Regions from separate parts of the Homo sapiens genome. Here region 2 is linked to region 1. Evidence: fine-mapped expression QTL. A gene starts in region 1. The other region holds a variant in brackets. All regions are shown on one strand. Distances are between the middles of the regions. Region 1 holds the start of LLGL1 (LLGL scribble cell polarity complex component 1). Region 2 overlaps TOP3A (DNA topoisomerase III alpha).

The links. PIP is the estimated chance that this variant, and not a neighbour inherited with it, causes the effect.
Region 2: its variant is fine-mapped to the expression of LLGL1 in whole blood (INTERVAL, PIP above 0.99).

Annotation. Positions count from the first base shown.
Region 1 is chr17:18,216,455-18,232,281 of GRCh38, reverse strand. LLGL1 (LLGL scribble cell polarity complex component 1) reads right to left here and starts at 6,647. Exons shown (of 23, transcript NM_004140.4): 1 at 6,519-6,647; 2 at 2,244-2,341. The coding sequence starts at 6,599. RefSeq lists enhancers at 94-927, 928-1,763, 14,602-14,701 and silencers at 6,186-6,355, 6,506-6,985.
Region 2 is chr17:18,273,341-18,283,819 of GRCh38, reverse strand. It overlaps TOP3A (DNA topoisomerase III alpha), which reads left to right. Exons shown (of 19, transcript NM_004618.5): 16 at 979-1,122; 17 at 3,162-3,284; 18 at 5,463-6,145; 19 at 8,840-10,479. The coding sequence ends at 9,018. Among named protein-coding and RNA genes, the nearest start is that of MIEF2, 18 kb to the right of the region's middle. The variant G/TG (reference allele first, on the strand shown) is at 6,635.

The sequences.
Region 1 (15,827 bases):
ACTCCTGCAAGTCAGGTGCTGCTATAGGACCTTCACTTCCCGTAAATTGGGCCAGTGACTCCCACTTTACAGGACTGTTGCAGATCAAGTGAGAATAAACACACCCAGCAGGCTTGGCCTCAGCCTGGTGAGAGGATGGGGCTCCGCTCCACTTCAGCTCCGTGTGTCTATGGGTTCTGGGAGCTGCGCCTTGCCGGATGGGATCAGGCAGGCCAGAGGTGCAAGGCCAGGCCTGGACAAGAAAGCCAGGGGGCAGAAGAGTCCAGGCTGCCTTTTCCCACAGCTTCAGGCCAAACTTCAGCCATGGGTAAGAAAACCCACCTCCTCTGGGCACGGTGGCTCGCTCCTGTAATCCCAGCACTTTGGGAGGCCGAGGCAGGTAGATCACAAGGTCAGGAGTTGAGGACCAGCCTGGCCAAGATGGTGAAACCTCGTCTCTACTAAAAACGCAAAAATTAGCCGGGCATGCTGGCAGGCACCTGTAATCCCAGCTATTTGGGAGGCTGAGGCAGAGAACTGCTTGAACCCGGGAGGCAAAGGTTGCAGTGAGCCAAAACTGTGCGACTGCACTCCAGCCTGGGCAACAAAGAGCAAGACTCCATCTCAAAAAAACAAAACAAAACAAAAAAAACCCACCTCCCTCCAAAGCAGGCAGCCAACAACTGCCATCATGAGGGAGGAGAGACTCCAGCCTGCCCATTTCACAGATGAGCACACAGACTTGGAGGGGGTGGATGACCTGCTTGAAGTGCCCAGTGTCAGTGCCTGAGTCCCGGCAACTCCAGGGCTGATGGTGGACAGCAGGGCCTGAGGGGGCCCCATGACAGAGGGTGCAGGGAGGAGTCAGCAACGTTGCCCCGGTGACAACACAGGAGCCGTTGCCTGGAGCTTGAGCTCAGATTCCCTACAGGAGCCTGGCGAGAAACTCCGAAGAAGGGACAAAAGAGGGGACAGGAGCAGCTGGGCGGGAACCAGGGTCGTCAAGGAGATGGGGCTGGCCTGGCAGGGGGAGGGGCAGCTTCTAGTGACCAGGGCTGGCCCTCTCCAGCCTCAGTTTCCCAACCCAAGGGGCTCCAGGCAGTGGCAGTCAGGGGAAAAAGGGAAGAGGACCCCGGGCTCCAGCCTCCTTTCTGAGGCTCAGTCTCCTCATCTGCACTTCAGGTTCTTTTTGAGCCTGAGGACAAGTGCACTGGAGACCCCAACACAGGAGGGACACCTGAAGGCTGCAGGGACACATGTGCGCACGCAGCGCAGCACCCACAGGAGTGGGAGCAGCAGGCCAGGCAGCGGAGCATGTGGGGCCCAGAGCACTGCCACACTCACCAACAGAGGCCGCTGGGGCCATGGGAGAGAAGGGGACATCTCAGCCCATCCACACTCCCCAGAGTAGGCAAAGAGCTCACAAACCACAGGCTCAGAGTCCCATCCCTGCCTGATCAGTGCCCCCAGTCCTGGGGTGAGGAGACCCCCATCCCACACCCTCCCCTTTCCCAGCACTGACACATTTTCTGGGAACTGATGTCTGAAACCAGGATACTGAAACCCAGAAGGCCACACAGGAGGGGTAGGGGTCAGCACCCCTCACCAAGCCGCCATCAGCCAGACCCTGGCACCTCGGCTTCCCCAAGAGCAGTTGGGGTGGGATTCTCCAGGGCTGGCAAGGAGACACTGAGCTGCCGGCCTGCCCCCACCCCCACCCCAGGCCTGCAGGGAAAATGCCCGCTTTGTGTGGCTCACACAGCCCATTGTGCAGCAGCCAGTATCCAGGTGGGGGCCGTGCTGTGCTCACCATGCCGAGCCTGGCACTGCCCCCAGGCCCCTTTGCTGAACACATGTGTCTTCACATTCACACATGTGTGCATCAGCTCACCAGGGCCCCCAGCCCACCTGCCACCCTCCATGGGTATCATAGCCCAGCCTTCTGCCTGGCCTCCCCAGAGTTGCTGGGACGATGGCAGGGTCGCCTAGGTAACTGGCTGGCTGACACGTAGCAAGGGACAGCTGTGCTACTGCAAACTGACCCCCCACCACCCGTCTCTCAGCAAAAGGACCCCATCATCTCTGCACAGTTGTCTCAGGTACAGAAGCCACGCCAACCTCCGCAGAAGCCCCCACTACTGCCCATCAGAGCACCTCTGTCCTCCTCTCGAGCTGGACACTGCCAAGACTGGGACCCCAGAGCACAGGGAACTACAGGCAGGTGGTCCTGAACAGACCCTGAACACCTGTCCTGCAAAGGATACATCTTGACAGCCCCAGACCTGGTGCCGATGGCCATGATGCGAAGTTCCGGGTCGAAGGCCAGGGCGCTGGGCTGATTGGGGAAGCCATGCTCCACAGTCTGCAAGGAGGGGAGGGCTGCTGGGGGTAAGCACTCCCAGGCACCTCTGCCATGGCCCACCCTGAGGCCCACCCCAAGGCAGCCTCCAGGGTCTGCAGCTGACACACTGGGGGTAGGAGGCAGGTCTACTTGCTCTGTGCCTCAGCGTCCTCAACTGTGAAATGGGTTATCATGCCTCCAGTTGGTGGGGAGGTGGCTAAACCCCTAGCCTCCACCATGACTGTACCGCGTGCATAGTCCACAGAGGCCCGCCCTTTGCCAAGCCCCTGTGCCCCTCAATGCACACAGGCTCATGTGGGCCCCACTGCATGGAGGCTCCAGCAACAAACAGGTGAAGCAAGGCTCACAGAGGTGCAGGCACTGATGAGGCCCCACCTGCTCCATGAAGGGCTCTGCACCCCATTTTTAGAGGCACAGACTAAAGCTTGCGGAGGAGTCCCGCAAGATGACCATGACACTCCCCAAACACAGGCCTGAGTGGAGGTCAGAGGTCAAGGGACAACATCCAGGATCAGCTAGGCAGAGGCTTTTGACTCCTCCCAGACACAGGGAGACAGAGGCCCAGAGAGGGGTAGCTTTCTGCCTGGACCCCGAAGGCATCCTCCCACCTCCCCACCTGCCAACAGCTGGGCAACATGACTCCCATAACCATCAGGGGCGGAGATGGTGTTAAGGGGGTCTGTGTGCCCAGAGTGTCGATGAAACAGCTCCCCACCCGCTCCCCTGCCCCTTTCACAGCACACCCTTTCTGCACCAGTCTCCTGTCTTTGGCCTGGCTGTGCCCTCCCTGGGAAGCCTGCACAGCTGAGCTCCAGCCCCATCCTGAACACCAGTGCAGGACACCCACGTGGGCCACTGGTAACTCCTTTTATCTTGTTGTTGTTATTTATTTTTCACTTTTACCACTGGTAATTCCTGACCCACTGCCTCAGGAAGATGCACATTTGTAAGAAACCCCAGTTCCCAGCCTGTAACGCGAACCTCCCTCCCTGCCTGCCTCTGCCCATCCAGGTGGGGACTGAGCCCTCTGGGCAGCTGGTTTGGTCACGGCCTAGCTGTCTGGCCTTGGGCAAGTCACAGTACTCTCCAAGACTCAGTACTCTCCAAGCTTCAGTCTCTCATCTGGGCCCTTGGGACAGTAAGCCCACCTAAGGACAGAGTTGGCGATTTGGCTGGGGCTTCTCTCTCCCACCAATAATACCACGCCCTTGCTGCACCTGACCTTGTCTAGCCAGTCCCTCGCTACAACCAGGGTCCAGAGACGGGACACTGCATCGCAAATCCCCACAGCCTTCCCATTTTACAAACGAGGAAAGGAGGTTACATGCACTGTCCAGCATCTGCTTCCCTCATACCCCACGTCCAGTCCATTTCTGAGCCCCATCAACTCAGTTTCAAAACACACAGAAGTCACCTCCCTCCCTGCTCCAGGCCCCACCGTCACGTGCCTGGATTGGTACTCACTACAGTCTGTTCCCACAGAGGCCAGAGGGATCCTATGAAAGCCACAGCCAGATCCTTGTCCCTCCCCTGCTCAGGATCCTCCTGGGGCTCCCAGCTAAGGGAGGCTTGTGCCTCAGGGCCTTTGCACCTACTGCCCCTCTGCCTGGAACGCACTTCCTCCAGCACTTCCTGTCGCTCAGGAGTAATCTCCTCAGAGAAGCCTCCCAAGGCCACCCTGGCTGCAGCAGCCGCCCTGGCCACACCTCTCACCCCCTCGCCCTACTTTATTTGATCCACAGCACTGGCTACCATCCCAACTACAGTCTATTTTACTTTTTTGTTTTGGCTTTTCACTGTCTCCTGCACAACTATATCAGCCACCTGAGTTAACAGGTATTTGTCCTTTTTGGTAACTACTGTTGTCCCCAGCACCTTGGAGACCTCACACACAGTGGGGCTCAGTATTAACAGAGAAGGCACATTCCACAGGCGATGTGTGGGCTGGACTGGGATTTGAACCCAAGACTCAGAGTCCAAAGTCCCTGCTCACTCCTGACCTGTCTCCCACCCCCTAAGCTCAGGAATCAGGGGCCTATTCCCTAGCGATCACCTATTACCCACTTAGGTGACTAAGTCCCTTCCCCAAGACCACCCCACTTTCCACCACTGCTGCCCACGCTTCATCCTCAGCGGAGGGCCCTTACTTTCCGCCACCCCAAGGCTAGCCAGAGTGGGCTGAGCTTCACCCCCATCTGTCTCCAGCCCCCACTGCACACCCCAATTCACTGGCTGAAGAAATGACATTTAGGCCAGGCATGGCAGCTCATGTCTGTAATCCTAGCACTTTGGGAAGCCAACATGGATGGATAGATAGCTTGAACCCAGGAGTTCGAGACCAGCCTGGGCAACATGGTGAAACCCCATCTCTACAAAAAATACAAAAACTAGCCGGGCATGGTGACACGAGCCTGTAGTCCCAGCTTCAGGAGGCTGAGATGGGAGGATCACCTGAGCCAGGGAGTTGTGAGGCTGCAGTGGACTGTGATTGTGCCACTGCACTCCAGCCTGGGTGAGAGTGAGACCCCATTTCAAAAAAAAAAAAGTGACATTTAGCCCTGTGCCTGTTGCTGCCTTTCCCTGAAGGGCCATTCTCCTCTCACCTCACCCTCACAGCCTCCCCGGCACAGAAAATAGGTGCCATCTGGGGACCACGGAGCACCAGCTTCCCTTCTGGGCCCCTCTCAGGTTCCTAGCAGGTTCTCAGCCACCGTGTGAGGGTCCTGGCAGCTCTCATCGGCAATCACTGCAGACCTAGGCAGGGAAACCCTGAGACATCCCAGTGCCTCCACTACTCCAGGTCCAGCCGTCCCAGAGCCTCCTCCAAGACAAGTGTCTCCTCAAGGCAGCCCAGGGCGCCTGGCACAACACTGGCCCAGGACCACAGCAGCCCCTTGGAAAAATCCCTGCCCCTCAAGGCTAAAATCCAACCCCACTGACACAAGAACTCAAGAAAGATATTGGTGCAGCTCACTCTGACTCCGGGCAAGCCGTCACCCCTCTCAGAACCTCAATTTTCTCACCTGTATTTTGAAGATAACTCTAATTTCGAAGAGCACTGAGAGGCTCTGCCATCAGTGGGCTCTGGGGTAAGAATGAGGACAAAACCAACGTCCCCAGAGCAGTGAGCCAGGAGTGGGCTGAGGCCCTGCTCTAACATCAGTGCAGAGGGAGGCGGGGGCTGAGGCGGCCCCTTTCCCTGGCCCCTAGTGTCCCACTCCGGGAAAGGAAGGAAAAGCCTCCACCTCACTCCACCTTGGTGCAGAAAGGCAGGACAGCTGGCCCATGTGGCAGAGGGAGCCAGGGCCCACAGTATGGAGAAAAGTAGCCTCATTTCACAGCTAGGGAAACTGAGGCCCCACGATGCGAAGTGCAGTGTAGTACACAGCCAGGCATGTCCCCTGGACTCGGAGCCCCGGGCAGGGCAGAGCAGGGCAAGGCAGAGCCTGGAGCAGTGGGGGAAGGAAGGAGAGGCTCCTTGAAGGGATTTCCCAGCCGCACCCCCCACAGCTGCCTCGCCCCCACTAACTCTCTCACCCTCCTGGGTGCCAAAGCACAAAACAAACCGGGCCCCAGGGCTGTCCCAAGGGCCGAGCAGGGACGCAATGGAGCCCCTAAGAAAAAGGATAAAGAGACAGAAGTGAGCGACAGAGGTCGAGAGACTCCACAGAGACAGAGAGAGAGACACGCAGGGAGAGACAGGCAAAGAAGACTCAGAGACGCACAGGCAGCAAGAGAAATGAGAGGCAGAGAGATAAAGGGAGACAGGCAGAGATAGGAAGGGGCAGAGGCAGAGACACCCCCACCACACACACAGGCACAACTGGGGCGAGACAGCCGGTCAGCGGCGGAGAAAGAGGGACAGAGACCCAGAGACAGGCAAAGAGTCTCAGAGACAGACCCCCACACACACAGACTGGCAGAGCCAGGGCCAGAGCGGCCCGCAGAGACTCGGGGAGCAGACACGGAAAGTCGGCCGGAGACCCAGACCCACCCAGAGTCCGAGCCAGAGCGGGGCCCGCCGAGGGGGTGCGCGGCCCGGCCCGGCCCCGCCCCGCGCCGCGCTGCATGCCAGCCCCCGCCCCCCGGGCCCGACGTGGCTCCGACCCCGGGCCCCCAGCCCAGGCCCCCGTCCCGCCCCCTCCCGCCCGAGCCCGGGCCCGGGCCGCCGCCGCACCTTGTTGAAGGCGAAAAGCTCCTGCTTGAGCTTCTCGCGCTGCGGGTCGGCGCCCTGCCGCCGGAACCGAAACTTCATCATCTTGCGCCCGGCTGCAGGCGCCTCGCCCGCCGCCGCCGCCCGCAGGATGCGCCGCGCGGCCCCGCGGGTCCTAAGGCGCGGGCGGGGCGCCAGGCGGCCCGGGCGCGGGCGCGCGGGGCCGGGCCTGCACGGGGGTGGGCGCCGGGCGCGACGGACGCGCCGCCCGACCAGTGAGCGAGCCCGCCGTGCCGCCCGCCCCGCCCCTGTTGGCCAGACAATGGTGAACTGGGCCCCCGGGCTCGGCCGGGCTCGCGAAGGGACGCCCGCCTAGCATGCGCCGCGGCGCGGGGCCTGCCGGGACTTGTAGTCCATGAGCCGGGGCTCCAGCGCGGGCGGCTGGGGAAGCGCTTTGGAGGGGGATTGGCGCACGTTCCCGGGCTTGGAGGAGACTTTTTCCTCCTCCCAGAGAGCGAGCGACGTGCCCACTCATGTAATGGGGCAGCCCTGTTCCGAAAGCCAAGACAGCTCTGACTGGAACAACTCCCTGGCCCCTCTGCGCCTCAGTTTCCCCATCTACACCATTGGTCAAGTGATTGCCAAGTTTATATTTTACCAATTTCACAGAACTCCATTTCGTCTGTTCCCCGCTCTGTCAGAGCACCTCCCACCGCCGTGCTTTTGCCTTGGCTTTGTAGTCAGGAATTCTTTCCTCACCCCCAGCCCCTGGGGAACTCCTACACATCTTTCAGGACCCAACGCAAAAGGCTCTGTGTCACAGCACAGGGGATTCTTTCTTAGCCAAAGAAAGAGACGGGATCCCCAGGAGGTGGCATTTGGGACTGTTCTGGGGTTGGATTGGAGCTTTACGGAGATGGGGGAAGGACCTCCCCCCGCAGAGAACAGCGTCTGAACAAAGCTTAGCCCTGCCCCTACTCTCAGGGGCCGTCTGCCTGTCCCCACCCACCTCCCAGGCCTTTTCTCATCTGGACAATGGCCTCGAGGCTGAACCTTTCCTTCCAGGCTGAGGATAGGCCGCCTGGCTCAGGGCTGGGGCTGCGGGAGGTCCTAGAAGCTTAGGTGGGGCAGGTAGGACAGGCCCCAACCCCACCAGCTGTGTCCAGGGAGCAGGAGCTGACCTCTGAGCCCGAGGCGGCTGCCAAGCCTTGGGGCCTGGCTGTCCCCCTCCACCCACGCCAGGCCGGCGGTGTTCAGCCCTTCCCCGTATTTGGGGCTGGATCCGGAAGAGGGCCCAGGAGTGAGTGAGGAGGTGAGAGGAGGGAGAATGACGACAGTAAAGCCCCTAAGTGTCTACTGCGGGGCAGGCGCTGTTCAAAGCCCTTTCCTGGTTTCAGCTGACTTAGTGCTGTCAGTAGCTCTACGAGGGAGCCAACAATATTACCCATCCCAAATGAGGAAGCTGAGACCATCAGCCAAAGGCTGTTAGTTGTTGGCAGAGCTGCTGGACTGAGGAGGATGAGACCCCTTTGGCCACTGGCCACGCCACACCAGCACAGGCAGCAGGGACAGCTCAGAGGTCTGGGTTCTGGTCCCTGCCCTGCCTCACACAGGAAGTGTTAAGAAGTTGCTGGCTGGGCGCGGTGGCTCATGCCTGTAGTCCTAGCACTTTGGGAGGCCTTGGAGGGAGGATCTCTTGACCCCAGGAGTTTGAGACCTGACTGAGCAGTAGGGTGAGATCTCATCTCTACAGAAAAAAAATAAATAAATATTTTTTTAATTAGCTGGGCATGGTGGCCCAGCTGTAAATTCCAGCTACTCAGGAGGTTGAGGCAGGAGGATGGCTTGAGCCCAGGAGGTTGAGGCTGCTGTGAGCTGTGATCGTGCCACTGCACTCCAGCCTGGGCAACAGAGCAAGACCATCTCGAAAAAAAGGCCAGGAGCAGTGGCTCACACCTGTAATCCCAGCGCTTTGGGAGGCTGAGGCGGGCAAATCACTTGAGGTCAGGAGTTTGGGAAAAACCCAGTCTCTACTAAAAATACAAAAAATAGCCGGGCATGGTGGCAGGTGCCTGTAGTCCCAGCTACTTAGGAGGCTGAGGCAGGAGAATCGCTTGAACCCAGGAGGTGGAGCTTTCAGTGAGCCGAGATCATTTGCTCTCCAGCCTGGGCAACAAGCGTGATAAATGAAAAAAACAAACAAACAAACAAAAAAAAAACGTTGATTCACATTCCCACTTTACCATTTGGAAGCTATGTGACCTGGAACAAGTTACCTCAAATTCTCTGTGCCTCAGTTTCCTCATCAGTAAAAATGGTGATAATATTAGTATTTACCTCAAAGGGTTGTTGTGGAGATTAAATGTGTCAGGGTAATATGAACCAGAGCAACTCCATCTTGAATAGGAGGTGGGTAAAATGAGGCTGAGACCTACTGGGCTGCATTCCCAGATGGTTAAGGCATTCTAAGTCACAGGATGAGCTAGGAGGGGGTCGGCACAAAATACAGGTCATAAAGACGTTGCTGATAGAACAGATTGCAGTAAAGAAGCTGGCCAAAACCCACCAAAACCAAGATGGCCACGAGAATGACCTCTGGACATCCTCACTGCTACACTCCCATTAGCGCCATGACAGTTTACAAATGTCATGGCAACGTCATGAAGTTACTCTATATGGTCTAAAAAGGGGAGATATGAATAATCCACGTTTAGCATATCATCAGGAAATGACCACAAAAATAGGCAACTTGGCCGGGCACGGTGGCTCACGCCTGTAATCCTGGCACTCTGGGAAGCCGAGGTAGGTGGATCACCTGAGGTCAGGAGTTTGAGACCAGCCTGACCAACATGGAGGAACCCCATCTCTACTAAAAATACCAAATTAGCCGGGCATGGTGGCACATGCCTGTAATCCCAGCTACTCGGGAGGCTGAGGCAGGAAAATTGCTTGAACCCGGCGGGCGGAGGTTTCAGTGAGCCGAGATTGCACCACTGCACTCCAGCCTAGGCAACAAGAGTGAAAATCCATCTCAAAAAAACAAAGGACAACTCTGCCTATGGAGTAGCCTTTTTTTCCTTTTTCTTTTCTTTTTTCTTTTTTTTTTTTTGAGATGGAGTCTTGCTGTGTTACCCAGATTGCAGTACAGTAGCACTATCTTGGCTCACTGCAGCCTCTGCCTCCCAGGTTCAAGTGATTCTCCTGCCTCAGCCTCCCAAGTAGCTCGGACTATAGGCATGCGCCACCACACTCAGCTAATTTTTGTATTTTTAGTAGAGACCGGGTTTCACCATGTTGACCAGGCTGGTCTTGAACTCCTGACCTCAGATGATCCGCCTGCCTTGGCCTCCCAAAGTGCTGGGATTACAGGCATGAGCCGTTGCACCCGACACCCAATCTCCATTTTTCTTTTTCTTTTTCTTTTTTTTGAGACAGAGAGACAGAGTTTCACTCGGTCGCCCAGGCTGGAGTGCAGTGGTACAATCTCAGCTCACTGCAACCTTTGCCTCCCAGGTTCAAGCGATTCTCCTGCCTCAGCCTCCTGAGTAGCTGGGACTATAGGTCTGTGCCACCATGCCCAGCTAATTTTTTGTATTTTTAGCAGAGACGGGTTTTCACCGTGTTAACCAGGATGGTCTCGATCTCCTGACCTCGTGATCTGCCTGCCTTGGCCTCCCAAAGTGCTGGGATTACAGGTGTGAGCCACCGCACCCAGCCAGCAGTCCCCATTTTTCAATGGGACTTGGTTATTAGGCAGTAAGCAGCCATGCCTTTCCCAACCCCTATCTCACAGTTTTTTGGGGAGCAGGGCAACAGAACTGAGTCGAGACCACAGCTAACCATAGCTCACCGTCCTATGATGGGGCATGCACTGGGGCTGTGGGAGCCCAGAAGAGGCATCTGGCCCAGGGTCAGTGTCCTGCTGGGAGAGGACAGTGCACATGGGTTGTAATGGGTAAGGAGTGTACCTAGTGGAAGGAGCCAGGGGATAGGCAGGGAAGAGTCTCATGGCAAACGGATTCGCAAAGTGTCAGTACCCCCACCCCACAACACACACACACTTGTTAATTCAGATTCTAGGTCCTGCAAATGTGAATGACAGGCGAGTGGGGCCCCAGAATCTGGATTTTAAACCAGCTCCTTTCCCAAATGACCCTGAGGCCTAGCTTGGCCCCATCTGATCAGGTTAAGAGGGGTCAAATGGGTATACAGATACAAATGGGTAAACTGAGGCCTGGGCATGTAGGCCCAGCCTACCCATACCATCAGGCAGGGTTCAGAAATGGCACTAGAGAGGGCACCATCTCCCAGGCTGGGAGGGTCTGGGACACTAATGACTGTTTTTCTGTCCCCTCCCCCGCAAGTCAGGGCAGCCCAGGCCTATGATTACCACAGCAGCCCCAGGGGGCAGAGATTGGCACAGATGGCCATGCCAAGTCAGCTCATTGCTAGAACAAGAAACTGAGGGTCAGGGGAGCCCAGACAAACAACTGAACACAGGGTCCCGGTCATCTCAGGTGCCCACCCATCCTTGGAGCTGGGGGAGGCAGGAGGGTTCCTGAGTCAGCAGCACTGGCAGGGGAAGCTGGTTCTTCCTTCAGCCTCCCAGCCTCAGGTCAATCTCAGGCTAGGGGGGGGCTGCCTTCTCGGCATTTCCTTGGTGGGGTGTCCCCCTCCTCTCACCTCCTCCTAGGCTCCCATAGGGCTCTCACCCAGCTCTGGAGTCCGCCTTCAAATCCCAAGACATCCCCTTGCTCATTGGGTGACCTCAGCTAAACCATGAGTCCACCCTGGGCCTCAATTTCCTCATCTGTAAAATGCAGTAAGGACTAAATGAGATGACTCAAAACAAGATTTGAGGCCGGGCGCGGTGACTCACGCCTGTAATCCCAGCACTTTGGGAGGCCGAGGAGGGCAGATCACGAGGTCAGGAGATAAAGACCATCCTGGCTAACACGGTGAAAACCCATCTCTACTAAAAATACAAAAAATTAGCCGGGCGTGATGGCACAGACCTGTAGTCCCAGCTACTTGGCAGGCTGAGGCAGGAGAATCACTTGAACCCAGGAGGCAGCAGTTGCAGTGAGCCGAGATCAGTGCCACTGCACTCCGGCCTGGGCGACAGAGCGAGACTCTGTCTCAAAAAAAGAGTTGAGCACAGGACCCAGCAGGGTTTGTTCCTAGTGAACCAGCTGTGCCTAGAATAGCGCCTGGCACATAATTAATGCTCGACACATTTAAAACAACAGATTAAAGCCGGGCACAGTGGCTCACGCCTGTAATCCCAGCACTTTGGGAGGCTGAAGCAGGTGGAATACGAGGTCAGGAATTCGAGACTAGCCTGACCAACATGGTGAAACCTCATCTCTACTAAAAATACAAAAAAAAAAAAACATTAGTCAGGTGTGATGGTGCATACCTGTAATGCTCAGGAGGCTGAGGCAGGAGAATCACTTGAACCCAGGAGGCAGAGGTTGCAGTAAGCTGAGATCACGCCACTGCACTCCAGCCTGGGTGACAGAGTGAGACTCCGTCTCAAAGAAAACAATTTTAAAAAATAGATTAAAGATCTGAGGCCGGGCACGGTGGTTCACACCTGTAATCCCAGCACTTTGGGAGGCCAAGGTGGGCAGATCACTTGAGGCCAGGAGTTTGAGTCCAGCCTGGCCAATATGGTGAAACGCTGTCTCTACTAAAAATACAAAAATTGCCGGGCCCACTCGCTCACGCCTGTAATCCCAGCACTTTTGGAGGCCAAGGCTGGTGGATCACCTGAGGTTGGGATATCGAGACCATCCCGGCTAACACGGTGAAACCCTGTCTCTACTAAAAATACAAAAAATTAGCCAGGTGTATGGCACATGCCTGTAATCCCAGCTACCCTGGAGGCAGAGGCAGGAGAATTGCATGAACCTAGGAGGCAGAGGTTGCAGTGAGCCAAGATATTGCACTCCAGCCTCGGCAACATGAGTGAAACTCCATTTCAAAAAATAAATAAATAACAAAATAAATAAAAATAAAAATATAAAAATTAGCCAGGTGTGGTGGCGCATGCATGTAATTCCAGCTACTTGAGAGACTGAGGCAGGAGAATCGCTTGAACCCGGGAGGCGGAGGTTGTAGTGAGCCAAGATCGCACCACTGCACTCCAGATTGGGCAAGAGTGAGACGCTGTCTCAAAAAAAAAAAAAGAAAACAAACAAAAACAACAACAAATAATCCATACTGTTCAGGAGTTAAGTCCACAGAAGTGGCGGTTTGGTGGTTGATGGGATGTAAGTAGGCAGGTAGGTGAACAGGATGGCATGCATTGAAGGTGTCTTCGGACGTAGGTGCCCCAGTAAAGGCTATATCTGTGCATATCTCCCTGAATCCTCATAGATACCAGAACAACCCTGTTTTATAGACAGTAAATGGAAGATACGTGTAGAGAAGTGACTTGGTCACTCCTCTGCAGAGGGAAAGAGAAAGGGTGATCTCAGGGAGCGACAAGTGGGGAAGCTCCAAGGGAGGTAGATTAGGGTCAGTAAGGAAGTGGGAGGAAAACCAAGAGTCTGACTGAAGAAGGCAGGCCCTGGCTTTCAGAAGCTGGCCCAGATCCCAGCTGAGGCCATGACCCTCTCGAGCTGCCCAAACCACGGACTCAACTTCTTCCTAGTGGCTCCTGGGGGGCCAGATCTGGCAGGCTGGAAAATTCCTGGAGTGGTCTAGGTTGGGACAGAGCTAGGCAGGGCCCAGGATGGAAGGAGAGAGATGAGGGAGTGGGAGAAAGGGTGGGCTTACTGAGACTCCAAGACAGGGTCAGCAGACCAGCCCAAGCCAGGGAGGAGTGAATACCTCATCCCATGTGGTATGCAAATGAAGCTGAAGCTTAATAAGGTCTTGTGTCCTTTAGGTCCAGACAGAAGGGAGCAATGGATTTAGGGCCTCCTCAATCTACAGAGAGTGAATAGTGTTGTGTGCCTCCATGAAAGAAAGGCCAGACAGGTAGGGGGAGTGTTGGGGCTGACCTACTCTGTCCTTGTTTTATACAAGGGAGGAAGCTGAGGTTCAGAGAAGTGACCTGCCCAAGGTGACAGGTGAATAATATATGAGTCCCTGGACCTCTAACCGAGTGCTCCTTCTCTGGAGGCAGGACTCTCAGCCCTGACACTCGCTGAGCCTGGATCCTGAGTATGCTTTTCTTGGCTCATGCTGGGCTACAGGAACGGGGATCTGGGCACACCTGCTCCCTGCAAGGACTGTCAGGATTGAGGCCCAAGGGGCTGGGTATGTGGACATTACCACAGACCTGTTGGAAGGTGGGGCTTTGTGTTTCACTTCTCTCTGGTGCCCCAAGTGCTAATCCTGCCTCTGCCACTTTCCCTCTCTGGGCCTGTTTTCTCATCTGCGAAATGCGGGCTAATATTAATTGCTACCATTTATTAACACTGAGCACTTAGTCTGTGCCAGGCACTAGTTATTCCTTTAATCTTATGCCCATTTTACAAAGGAAGAAACTGAGGCCAGAGAGGTTAACTTGCCCAAAGTCACACAGCTAGTATATTGCAGAATCAGGATGTAAACCTAGTCCCCTCATGACGTCTCAGAGGTTGCAGCGAGAATTAAATGAGACAGTAAGTTAATGGCCTCACTCAATGAGAGTGCAGGAGAAGGTGGGAGTTAGGGCCCTGTTTCCCAGCCTGGAGTGGAAACACTGGGACCACAGAGTACACTCTAGGCAGTGCCAAAGGAGGCCCCGGTCTGGGTGGGGGAGCCCAAAGGCACCCCTGAAAAGCCTGGGAGGGGGCCAGAGAAGGTAGCATGGAAGAGAGCTGCCTGAGGCAGAGTACTGGCACTTGCAAAGATGTCTAGAACTCTCCAAGGAGCTGGGGCCAAGAGAGGTAGCGTGGGGCCCAGGCTGGGACTGCTGTTATGTGTGGCCTGGGGGTGGACCTGATGGCATCTGCTTGACCCACAGGTCCCAGTGCCCCTCCACACCTACTAGGATTAGTAAGGAAGTGGGAGGAAAACCCTACTAGCCCTGAGATCCCTGGCTGAGAAGGGCAGAAGCAGTGGGGAACCTAAGTTATTGGCTCTGAGTAACCTCTGGCAGGTTCGGGGGTCTCTGGGGACCTCAGTTCCCCATCCAAACCAAGGGACAGCTGCTGGCCCTTGCCCTCTACTCTGAAGCACCATCACTCAGGCTATGCTGCCACACTGTGGACACAGGAGGAACTGCGGCAGCAAGCGCCTCACACCTAACTGGAGGACCCCAGCCCTGACACTGCCCGAGCCCTTAGTTTTCCATCTCTCACAAAGACAGTGGATTTTCTTTTTTCTTTTCTTTCTTTTTTTTTTTTTTGGGGGGGGGGACGGAGTCTCACTTTGTCACCCAGGCTGGAGTGCAATGGCGCGATCTCGGCTCACTGCAACCTCCGCCTCCCGGGTTCAAGCGATTCTCCTGCCTCAGCTTCCCAAGTAGCTGGGATTACAGGTGCCTGCCACCATGCCCGGCTAATTTTTTTTGTATTTTTAGTAGAGACAGGGTTTCACCAGGTTGGCCAGGATGGTCTCGATATCTTGACCTCGTGATCCGCCCACCTCGGTCTCCCAAAGTGCTGGGATTACAGGTGTAAGCCACCGTGCCAGGCCTTCCTTTCTTTCCTTTTCTTTTCTTTCTCTTTCTCTTCTTTTCTTTCTTCTTTTCTCTCTCTCTCCTCTTTCTCTCTCCTCTCTCTTTTAGACAGTTTCACTCTTGTCGTCCAGGCTGGAGTGCAATGGCACGATCACAGCTCACTGCAACCTCTGCCTCCCGGGTTCAAACAATTCTCCTGCCTCAGCCTTCCGAGCAGCTGGGATTACAGGCGCCCACCACCAGGCTGGCTAATTTTTGTATTTTCAGTAGACACAGGGTTTCACCATGTTGGCCAGGCTAGTTTTGAACTCCTGACCTCAGGTGATCCACCCACCTCAGCCTCCCAAAGTGCTGGAACTACAGGCGTGAGCCACTGCACTCAGCTAAGAAAGTGGTTTTCTTATTGATTTTGACAGTCCTCTGCACAGCAGCACCAGTGATCCTACATCTGTTCACATCACTCCTCTGCTCAAACTCTCTATGGGAATCTAGTGGTGTGCTGGAGCCCTCTGCAAGAGCCAAATGGCAAATTTTCAAGAACTTTTGTGAGTCAGTTGTTAAAGTCATTAAAAATTAATTATATAAAATTAAAATTACACTAAAAACTAAGGGTAATATTAAAAACTAAGCATTTCCTACTTATTTTGCCACATTTTCCTATTATCTGTACTCTTGGATTACATCTATTGTATCTGTATGGTGGAAACACTATATAT
Region 2 (10,479 bases), 54 kb before region 1:
CCCTGAGCTCTGTGAGCCACTCTATTGAGAATCAAACCAAGGAGGGGGTCTGAGGAACCCCAGTTTATAGCCAGTCAGTCAGAAGCACAGGTCACAGCCTGGGATTTGTGACTGACATCTGAGGGAATTTGGGGCAGCAGTCTTCTGGGACTGAGCCCTTAACCGTTAGATGGATCTCCAGGTGCATAGTGTCAGAATTGAATTGAATTAGAGGATGTCCAACTGGTGTGTGGCGGGAGAGTTGCTTGGTGTATGGGGAAAACTCCCATACATCTGGTGTCTGATGTGTGTTGTGAGACTGTAATAGAAGATAACAGTTTGTTATTTTCTGTTCTTTAGAGTACCCCATGCCAGTTGTGAAAAGGCAGGCATGAGCTAGTTTAGACTTAATACAGACAGACACTCCTGGAGTTTGTACATGGACCCTGTGCAGTTTTACTTTTTTTTTTTGAGATGGAGTTTCGCTCTTGTTGCCCAGGCTAGGGTGCAATGGCGTGATCTTGGCTCACCACAACCTCTGCCTCCTGGGTTCAAGCGATTCTCCTGCCTCAGCCTCCTGAGTAGCTTGGATTACAGGCATGCGCCACCATGCCTGGCTAATTTTGTATTTTTAGTAGAGACGGGGTTTCACCATGTTGGTCAGGCTGGTCTCGAAATTACAACCTCAGGTGATCCGCCCGCCTCGGCCTGGGATTACAGGCGTGAGCCACCACATTTGGCCCAGTTTTACTTTTTAATGTGGGCTGGTGACAAGCAGAAGCATCTGCCTGTATCTGGACTCTCCTCCCAAGAGTTGGTTCGGCACCAGGGCCCATGGTGAGCTCAGTCTTCTGTCTGCCGTCTGTTCTCTGCAGGAGGCCTGCGGCTCACTGACCAGCTGGTTCTCAAGGTCACGCCTGTTGTGTGCATGTAAGAGTGTTGTAGGTGCCTTTGCAGCGATTGCTGGCTGATGGGTGTCTGTCTTTGCCTTTTCTTCAGATTGGACGAGGCCTTGGCCCAGTACTTTGGGAATGGGACAGAGTTGGCCCAGCAAGAAGATATCTACCCAGCCATGCCAGAGCCCATCAGGAAGTGCCCACAGTGCAACAAGGACATGGTCCTTAAGACCAAGAAGAATGGCGGGTGAGTGCGCTGCCTTCTGCCCCCACCTCTGCTCCCCAGCACCTGCGGTGTCAGCCGTAGCTCGAAAGACCCTGCCATTTCACTCCATGGAATCTTTCAAGACAGGCCTGTTGTTGCCAACCTGCAGGCAAGGTGTTGGCCTAAAAGCATAGCAGGGTGGGATCAGGCCTTTGAGGTGTAAAGCACTATGGGAATTCAGAGCAGGTGAGAAACTGAATGATAGTGGGGTTTTTTTGTCCCCTGTGGATAGGACATCATATACCCAATGTGTAACACATGGAGGAGCATGAGCTTCAGATCTAGGTGGGTCTGGGTTCAAATGCCACTTATGCCGCATATAAGTGGTGTGGCCTGAAGCAAGTTACTTACCTGCTCTGAACCCCAATTTCTTCTTTTATAAAATGTCAGTACTTACAAGGCTGTGTTAAGGGTGAGGATTTGGTGAAAATGGTCAGGACTATATAGCACATTGCCTGATGTGTTGTAGATACTCAGCAGATACTACTTTTGTTCTCTCCTAGTTTTAGTTCTGAATGGGGCCTGAAAATCTCAACTCCCTTTTCGCTTTAAATATAGTAGATCTGAGTGGGCAATTTAGCTTCACATCAGGTTGTTGGAGCCAGTGGCTGGCCACTGGAGGAAGTTCACGGGGAAAGACGAGGTGGAGGGGTGGCAGCCATCATTCATCAGGTGCCGTCCCTCACTGGTGTAATGCAGGGTGGTGCTCTGTAAGCATTACCTCATCCCATTCTCCTAACTACCCTGCAAGGCAGGGATTTTTATGCAGCTTAGAGGGCTGAGGTGCTTGCTTGGAGTCAAGCAGCCGTGGTGGGCAGCAGAGTTTGAAACCGGGTTTTCACTGCCTTTTTCCATCCTGCCTGGCCCACCTGGGACTGCTGTGCTCCTTGCTGCTGAATAAGAAAGGAGGTTTCTCAACTCCTCACCTCCAGCCATCATTAACCTGGCTGGCCCAAGTGAAGAGAAGGCCACCCAGGCTCTCAGAAACAAGAGGTCTATGGGCCAGACCTGGAAGCAGGTGTCAGGGCTCGCGTCACTCACAGACAGAAGCCAGTGCCACTCTAGGCTTAGCCCAATGACTGGGCGTATATTTCAGCACTTAATAAATGCTGTCGATGGGTTTTCCTTGCTATCGGTAGGTTATTGGATTAGTACTCATTGGAATATAAGGAGAGAGAATAACTACTTTTGTTTTAGCTCTGAATTCTCCAATTCTCTGAATTGGAGAATTATTATTATTCTTTAGTTATTCGTTTGTTCTTCTGTTATTCTTTTGTAATGCTTCTCTGAGTTACTCCAGAAGGTCAGGAGATTATCTTGTGGGATTTGCCACTCCATGATTTATCTGTTAATTTCCATTTCTGAGATTGTAAATTTCTTATTTAAATGATTGGAGTTCGGGGCTTTTTTTTCCTTCATAGTGTACCCAGGCACACTCATGAGGAATTTGTAAATCACATGCATATTAGCTAGTCAAACCCTAACGTTTCATGACTGCAAGGTGTTGAAAAACATTGGCCAGGAGAGACCGGGATGGGATGGATGGGCAGTGGGTGGGGTGTAGATGTTGCAGGTGAGGCTTTGTCACAAACAGATGGGTTTCCATTCCTGGCTCCCATCCACACATGCATGCATGTCTCTGGGCAGGTTTCCAGGCCACACCAAGCCACTGTTTACTCACATGCAAACTGAGGGGGCCCCTGACACTGCCCAGACTTGGCACGAGGCAGAAAGGCAAGAATGTGTGAGTGCACAGCACAGAGCCCCTGGCGTCAGCTTGGTTGGTTGTTGGTTTTCTAAATAGAAAGCAGGGCCAGCAATAGCTGCTTTGTGCTTTTGGGATGTGAGAAGGCTCATTTTTCCCAATCAATTCAATATGAGTGCTTGTGTATCCAGTTAAGTGTCATCCAGAAAAGGGAATGTTGTCCTCGGGCAGCTGAGGAAAGGCTGCCTTAGCTGATGGCCAACAGCGGAGAGCATCTCCTGCACTCCTATCATCTGACATGGCACTTTGTCCCCAGGTTCTACCTCAGCTGCATGGGTTTCCCAGAGTGTCGCTCAGCTGTGTGGCTTCCTGACTCGGTGCTGGAGGCCAGCAGGGACAGCAGTGTGTGTCCAGTTTGTCAGCCACACCCTGTGTACAGGTGAGCTGGGCACCTGAGTCAGGTGCCTCCTCTGGAGTGTGTACACCATCTTTCCCTTGCTCCTGCCAGAACCCAGAGAGGAGTGTCGGGGATTCCACTCAGGCCCTGCAGGGGCGTAGCTGTGTTCTGCAGCAGCCAGTTCAGCAGGGCTGGTCCAGTTCTGTTGTGTTCCATGCTGTCACTGCTTTGGCAGGTATGACCCTGTTTGGAGTGGGCCATGGGCAAAGAACCATGAAGGGCTCTTTCCCTGCCCTCTCCAGATAGATGATTGCTACACCAGGCTTAGGAAATTATTCACATATTAAATACAACATCCAAGCTTGGGCTACGTAGCAAGACCCCATCTCTTTAAAAAAAAAAATTTTTATTTAAAAAAAAATTTTTTTTAAGACAGTCTCGCTGGGTTGCCCAGGCTGAAGTGCAGTGGCGCAGTCTTGACTCACTGCAACCTCCGCCTTCTGGGTTGAAGTGATTCTTCTGCCTCAGCGTCCTGAGTAGCTGGGATTACAGGCATGCACCACTATGCCTGACCACTTTTTGTATTTTTAGTAGAGACAGGGTTTCACCATGTTGGCCAGGCTGGTCTCGAACTCCTGGCCCCAAGTGATCCACCCACCTTGGCCTCCCAAAGTGCTGGGATTATAGATGTGAGCCACTGCACCTGGCCAAAAAAAATTTTAAATTAGCCAGATGTGGTGACATATGCCTATAGGCCAAGCTGGTCAGGAGGCTGAGGCAGGAGGATCGCTTGATCCTAGAGGTCTAGGCTGTAGTGAGCCATGATTTCACCACTGCTCTCCAGCCTGGAATGACAGAGCCAGACCCTGTCTCTAGAAATAAATGAATAGGCCGAGCCTGGTGGCTCAGGCCTGTAATCCCAGCATTTTGGGAGGCCGAGACAGGCGGATCACGAGGACAGGAGATCGAGACCATCCTGGCTAACATGGTGAGACACTGTCTCTACTAAAAATACAAAAAATGGCCAGGCGTGGTGGCTCACGCCTGTAATCCCAACACTTTGGGAGGCCGAGGTGGGTGGATCACGAGGTCAGGAGATCGAGACCATCCTGGCTAACATGGTGAAACCCCGTCTCTACTAAAAATACAAAAAATCAGCCAGGCGTACTGGTGGGCGCCTGTAGTCCCAGCTACTCGGCAGGCTGAGGCAGGAGAATGGCGTGAACCCAGGAGGCAGAACTTTCAGTGAGCCGAGATTGCACCACTGCACACCAGCCTGGGCGACAGAATGATACTCTGTCTCAAAAAAAAAAATTTTAATAATTTATTTCTAGTAAATGCATTGCATACTACTGTAAATAACTTGTTTTTTAGGGTAATAAAATACCTATTTTCAAAAGCAAAATAATAATGACATTAATGACATTGTTTTACATTTTGCAATTTGTATGTCTGGCTTAATAGAAGAGAGCTGGATTCCCGTATCTGCTTCTGCAGTCAGCCTGCTGAGTCATTGCATGTGCTGGAACCTCCAGGAAACTCCGTTGTATACACATGGAAGAATAAGAGCAAAATAGACATAACCTCTTAGAATTTTTTTTGAGACAGAGTCTTGCTCTGTCACCAGGCTGGAGTGCAGTGGCACAATCTTGGCTCACTGCAACCTCTGACTCCCAGGTTCAAGAGGTTCTCCTGCCTCAGCCTCCCGAGTAGCTGGGACTACAGGCGCGTGCCACCATGCCCAGCTAATTTTTGTATTTTTGGTAGAGATGGGGTTTCACCATGTTGGTCAGGATGGTCTCAATCTCTTGATTTTGTGATCCGCCCGCCTCAGCCTCCCAAAGTGCTGGGATTACAGGTTTGAGCCACCACACCTGGCCTATAAAAGAGTTTTGCACTCTCCTTGAAAGGGCTCAGGCACCCTGGAACCACACTTGGAGAACTGCTGATACAGAGACATGGGACTTCTCAGAGGTGTTTTTATTTTAGTGAATTACTGGGATCTTAGATTTCATCTGCACTGTTTCCCACTGTCCACTCCTGTGATGACTGGTGGGGGCTTGTGGTGGGCTGATAGAGGGCCTCACAGGGGACTTGTGTGGGCTTCCTGATGCATAAGGAATGGTGGAGAGAGGCCTAGGGCTAAAGCAGCCCTCACTGGACTAAGGAGAAGCTGGCATCTGGTTGTTAATGTTTTTTCTCATCTTCTGGCCTCACTAGGTTAAAGTTAAAGTTTAAGCGCGGTAGCCTTCCCCCGACCATGCCTCTGGAGTTTGTTTGCTGCATCGGCGGATGCGACGACACCCTGAGGGAGATCCTGGACCTGAGATTTTCAGGGGGCCCCCCCAGGGCTAGCCAGCCCTCTGGCCGCCTGCAGGCTAACCAGTCCCTGAACAGGATGGACAACAGCCAGCACCCCCAGCCTGCTGACAGCAGACAGACTGGGTCCTCAAAGGCTCTGGCCCAGACCCTCCCACCACCCACGGCTGCTGGTGAAAGCAATTCTGTGACCTGCAACTGTGGCCAGGAGGCTGTGCTGCTCACTGTCCGTAAGGAGGGCCCCAACCGGGGCCGGCAGTTCTTTAAGTGCAACGGAGGTAGCTGCAACTTCTTCCTGTGGGCAGACAGCCCCAATCCGGGAGCAGGAGGGCCTCCTGCCTTGGCATATAGACCCCTGGGCGCCTCCCTGGGATGCCCACCAGGCCCAGGGATCCACCTAGGTGGGTTTGGCAACCCTGGTGATGGCAGTGGTAGTGGCACATCCTGCCTTTGCAGCCAGCCCTCCGTCACACGGACTGTGCAGAAGGATGGACCCAACAAGGGGCGCCAGTTCCACACATGTGCCAAGCCGAGAGAGCAGCAGTGTGGCTTTTTCCAGTGGGTCGATGAGAACACCGCTCCAGGTGAGGCAGGGAGGGGCATGGGAATCCCTGCCTTCAGTTTTCAGGTGTTTACCTCAGAGACTGGGGACAGCAGAAAGAAGGCAAGGCAGGGTCATGGTGGGATTGGGAGGGGCACCTGGGCTGCCTTGCACCTCACTTTTCCTCACTTGATCACTTTCAGCAAGGTGATAATTGTACAGTCCTCATTCCAAATTAAAGGGTAGCTACCAGTAATGGTGTCACTTGCCCTATGCCTGGCACTATGCTAAGTATACTTCCTGTGCATCTTCCATCCTCATTGGGTAAGCATTATGATCACAATTTTACTTATAAGTGAGAAAGGTGAGACCCAGACACATGAAGTGGGTATTGCTCAGGGTCCCATAGCAACAGACACCAGGATGAGTACATAGGCCTTCCCAGTCCCATGGCCATGTGCCCTTGCAGCTGTCGTGACCCTTGGCAGACCATAAGCATCAGCCTCATTTCTTTTTTTTTTTTTTTTTTTTT[G/TG]GAGACTGAGTTTTGCTCTTGTTGCCCAGACTGGAGTGCAATGGTGCAATCTTGGTTCACTGCAACTTCCACCTCCCAGGTTCAAATGATTCTCCTGCCTCAGCCTCCCAGGTAGCTGGGATTACAGGCATGCACCACCACGCACAGCTAATTTTGTATTTTTAGTAGAGACGGGGGTTTCACCCTGTTGGTTAGGCTGGTCTCGAACTCCACCTCAGGTGATCCACCTGCCTTGGCCTCTCAAAGTGCTGGGATTACAGGCGTGAGCCACCGTGCCTGGCCCAGCCTCATTTCTTCAGATGAAGATGCCAACCCCGATGATATTTAGGAACCTGCCCAGGGTGACACAGCTTGGGCCAATGTCCGGGAACTGGGTGTCATGAGAAGTGGCACCTGGACATTGCATCAAGTTGAATGGTGTACGTGGAGGCACTTTGAATGGTTCCTCCTGCTCCAGTGCACAACAGAGCTTAAGTAGCTGAGAATGACCCAAAGGCCTAGTGGGAGCTTTGGAGTTGAGCAAATCTGGTTCCAAAGCTCAGCAGTATAACCTTGAACAAATGACTTAGCCTCTCTGCCTCAAGTTTGCTCAACAAGATGGTCCCTGCCTACATTCATAGGGTTCCTGTTTTAGAAAGGAGTTTAGTCTCAGACTATGATTCTTACACATGTGTCACTAGCCCGGCATGCACAGAAAGAAACCAGAGGTTTGGTAAAAACTGTGGGACTTGGAACTGGCTACCAGTGCTAATGGGGCCCAGAGATGGCCATTGCAGTGAGAGACCCACATTTGAAGTGAGATGCAGTCTGGCCTCTTGTCTCCCCACTTGGAAGGACATGGTATCTGACCTCCAGGCTGGCTGACTGACTGTCCTGGGTAAATGAGCAGCTGGTCTGGAAAGGCCTGTTGAGGGGACAGGAAGGGATCCAGAGCTGGACTTTCCTGCATGGAGGTGGGCCGCAGGTTGCCGGTCATAGGCTGCTTGTCTTTCCCACCCTACCACACAGGCCAGCTTGCTTGGGTTTCTGCCTCTGTAAAAAGGGCCGGCATGAAAGTCCACTTACCAAGTGAGTGTGGGACAATGTCTCCAAAGCTTAGGATTCTTGAGGGAGAGGTGTCAGGTAACATAAGGCAGCAGGCACATCGCACCTCAACCTTACAGAGTTGGACACAGTGTGAAGGGAGGCTGGCTGGTGGGGTGTACATGGCTGTATAAAAACTGATTCAGCCGGTCGGGCGCGGTGGCTCATGCCTGTAATCCCAGCACTTTGGGAGGCCGAGGCGGGTGGATCACGAGGTCAGGAGATCGAGACCATCCTGGCTAACACAGTGAAACCCCGTCTCTACTAAAAATACAAACAATTAGCCGGGCATGGTGGTCGGTCCCTGTAGTCCCAGCTACTCTCGGGAGGCTGAGACAGGACAATGGCGTGAACCCGGGAGGCGGAGCTTGCAGTGAGCCAAGATTGCACCACTGCATTCCAGCCTAGGCGACAGAGCCAGACTCCACCTCAAAAAAAAAAGGCCGGGCACGGTGGCTCACGCCTGTAATCCCAGCACTTCGGGAGGCCAAGGCGGGCGGATCACAAGGTTAGGAGATCGAGACCATCCTGGCTAACATGATGAAACCCGTCTCTACTAAAAATACAAAAAATAAAGTAGCCGGGCGTGGTGGCGGGTGCCTGTAGTCCCAGCTACTCGGGAGGCTGAGGCAGGAGAATGGCGTGAACCCGGGAGGTGGAGCTTGCAGTGAGTGGAGATCACGCCACTGCACTCCACACTCCAGCCTGGGTGACAGAGCGAAGACTCCATCTCAAAAAAAAAAAAAAAAAAAAAAAAAGTTGGTTCAGCCTTATCGTCTGCTGCTCTTTTTTTTTTTTTTTTTTTTTTTGAGACAGGGTCTTGCTCTGTTGCCCAGGCTGGAGTGCAGTGGTGTGATCACAGCTCACTGTAGCCTCCCAGGCTCAGGCATCCTCCCGAGTAGCTGTGACCACAGGCATACACCACACCTGGCTAATTTTTGCATTTTTTAAAGACAAGGTTTCACCATGTTGCCCAGGCTGATCTTGAACTCCTGGGCTCAAGCAATCCTCCTCCCTCAGCTTCCTAAAGTGCTGGGATTACAGGCATGAGCCACCGTGTTCAGGACTTGCCACTTCTGCATGTCAGTTCTAACCTCACCCCTCCCCTGACTCTCCCGACAGGGACTTCTGGAGCCCCGTCCTGGACAGGAGACAGAGGAAGAACCCTGGAGTCGGAAGCCAGAAGCAAAAGGCCCCGGGCCAGTTCCTCAGACATGGGGTCCACAGCAAAGAAACCCCGGAAATGCAGCCTTTGCCACCAGCCTGGACACACCCGTCCCTTTTGTCCTCAGAACAGATGAGCTCAGGGTAGGGTAGAGAACGCCACTTTCTCAGACCTGTCCCCTTTGTGTTTAGAAATGAGTTAACCAGGACCAAGTGGCCATTTAGTGTCCTGGAAACTTAGAGGACAGTGTTGGCCTTTGGAGTCGGGCCTTCTTGTGTTAAGGGGCACAAGGTCCAGATCACTCTGGAGCAGGCCAGCTCTGCTGGACAGTGACCCTCTTCCCAGGCCTCAGGAGTGACCATAGCCACTGCTGAAAAGTCACGCAGCTGCTCCCTCGGACCCCCCAAGGATGGTTGCTGTTAGCAGAGGATTGGTGCAGTCCCAGCTGAAGCCCACTGTGTGCCAAAGGAAGAAGCTCCCAGGGCTGCTTCCTTCACCTGCAGAAAGCCCCAAGTGAGCCACCAGCACTCATGGGGCAGTCCCTGTCCAGGCTGCCCAGGGCTTCTCATAGACGTCCTGAGAAGGACGGTGTAATGCAAGGAAATGGCTGTGGTAACACTGATCCTTCAGAAGAAGCTTCATTCCCTCTTAATCTAGTTAAGCCAGGACATCCAGAATTCATTGCTTTAATAAAGAACCCAGGCCGGGTGCAGTGGCTCATGCCTGTAATCCCAGCACTTTGGGAGGCTGTGGGGGGCGGATTGCCTGAGCTCAGGAGTTCGAGACCAGCCAGGGCAACATGGTGAAACCCTGTCTCTACTAAAATACAAAAAATTAGCCAGGTGTGGCGGTGTGCGCCTGTAGACCCGGCTACTCAGGAGGCTGAGGCAGGAGAATTGCTTGAACCCGGGAGGCGGAGGTTGCAGTTAGCTGAGATTGCGCCACTGGACGACAGAGCGAGACTCAGTCTCAAAAAAAATTTAAAAATTTAAAAAAATAAAAAGAATCCAACCCCGGCAGGGCGTGGAGGCTCACACCTGTAATCCAGCACTTAGGGAGGCCAAGGCTGGAGGATTGCTTGAGATCAGGAGTTCAAGACCAGCCTGGGCAACATAGTTAGACCTTGTCTCTATTTTTAAAAATATAACAAGCACAGTTGTACACGTCTTTAGTTCAGCTGCTCAGGAGGCTGAAGTGGGAGGATCCTTTGAACCCAAGAGTTTGAGGCTGCAGCAAGCCATGATCACACCACTGCACTCCAGCCTGGGTGACAGAGTAAGACCCTGTCTCAAACTTTTTTTAAAATGAAAGAATCCAACCTTTTTTTACTCTGACCTGCGAGAGTGCAGAGGGTCTGGGGAACATTTGCAGAAGCAACAGGTACCAGCCAGTGCTGGAAGGAGCTCACCCTGGGAGGTCTCGTCAGCCTCTGTCCTTCATGGCTGTCCCTTGTGTCCCATGTGGAGAGCCCTTCCTCCCTTTCCACATGGTAAGCACTGAGCCCAATTTCTTCTCACCCCACAGATGGTCCCTCAGAGCAGAGATGTCTAATGAAAGGTTCAGATTCAGATCACTAACTTTCCATCTTCCACTTTTT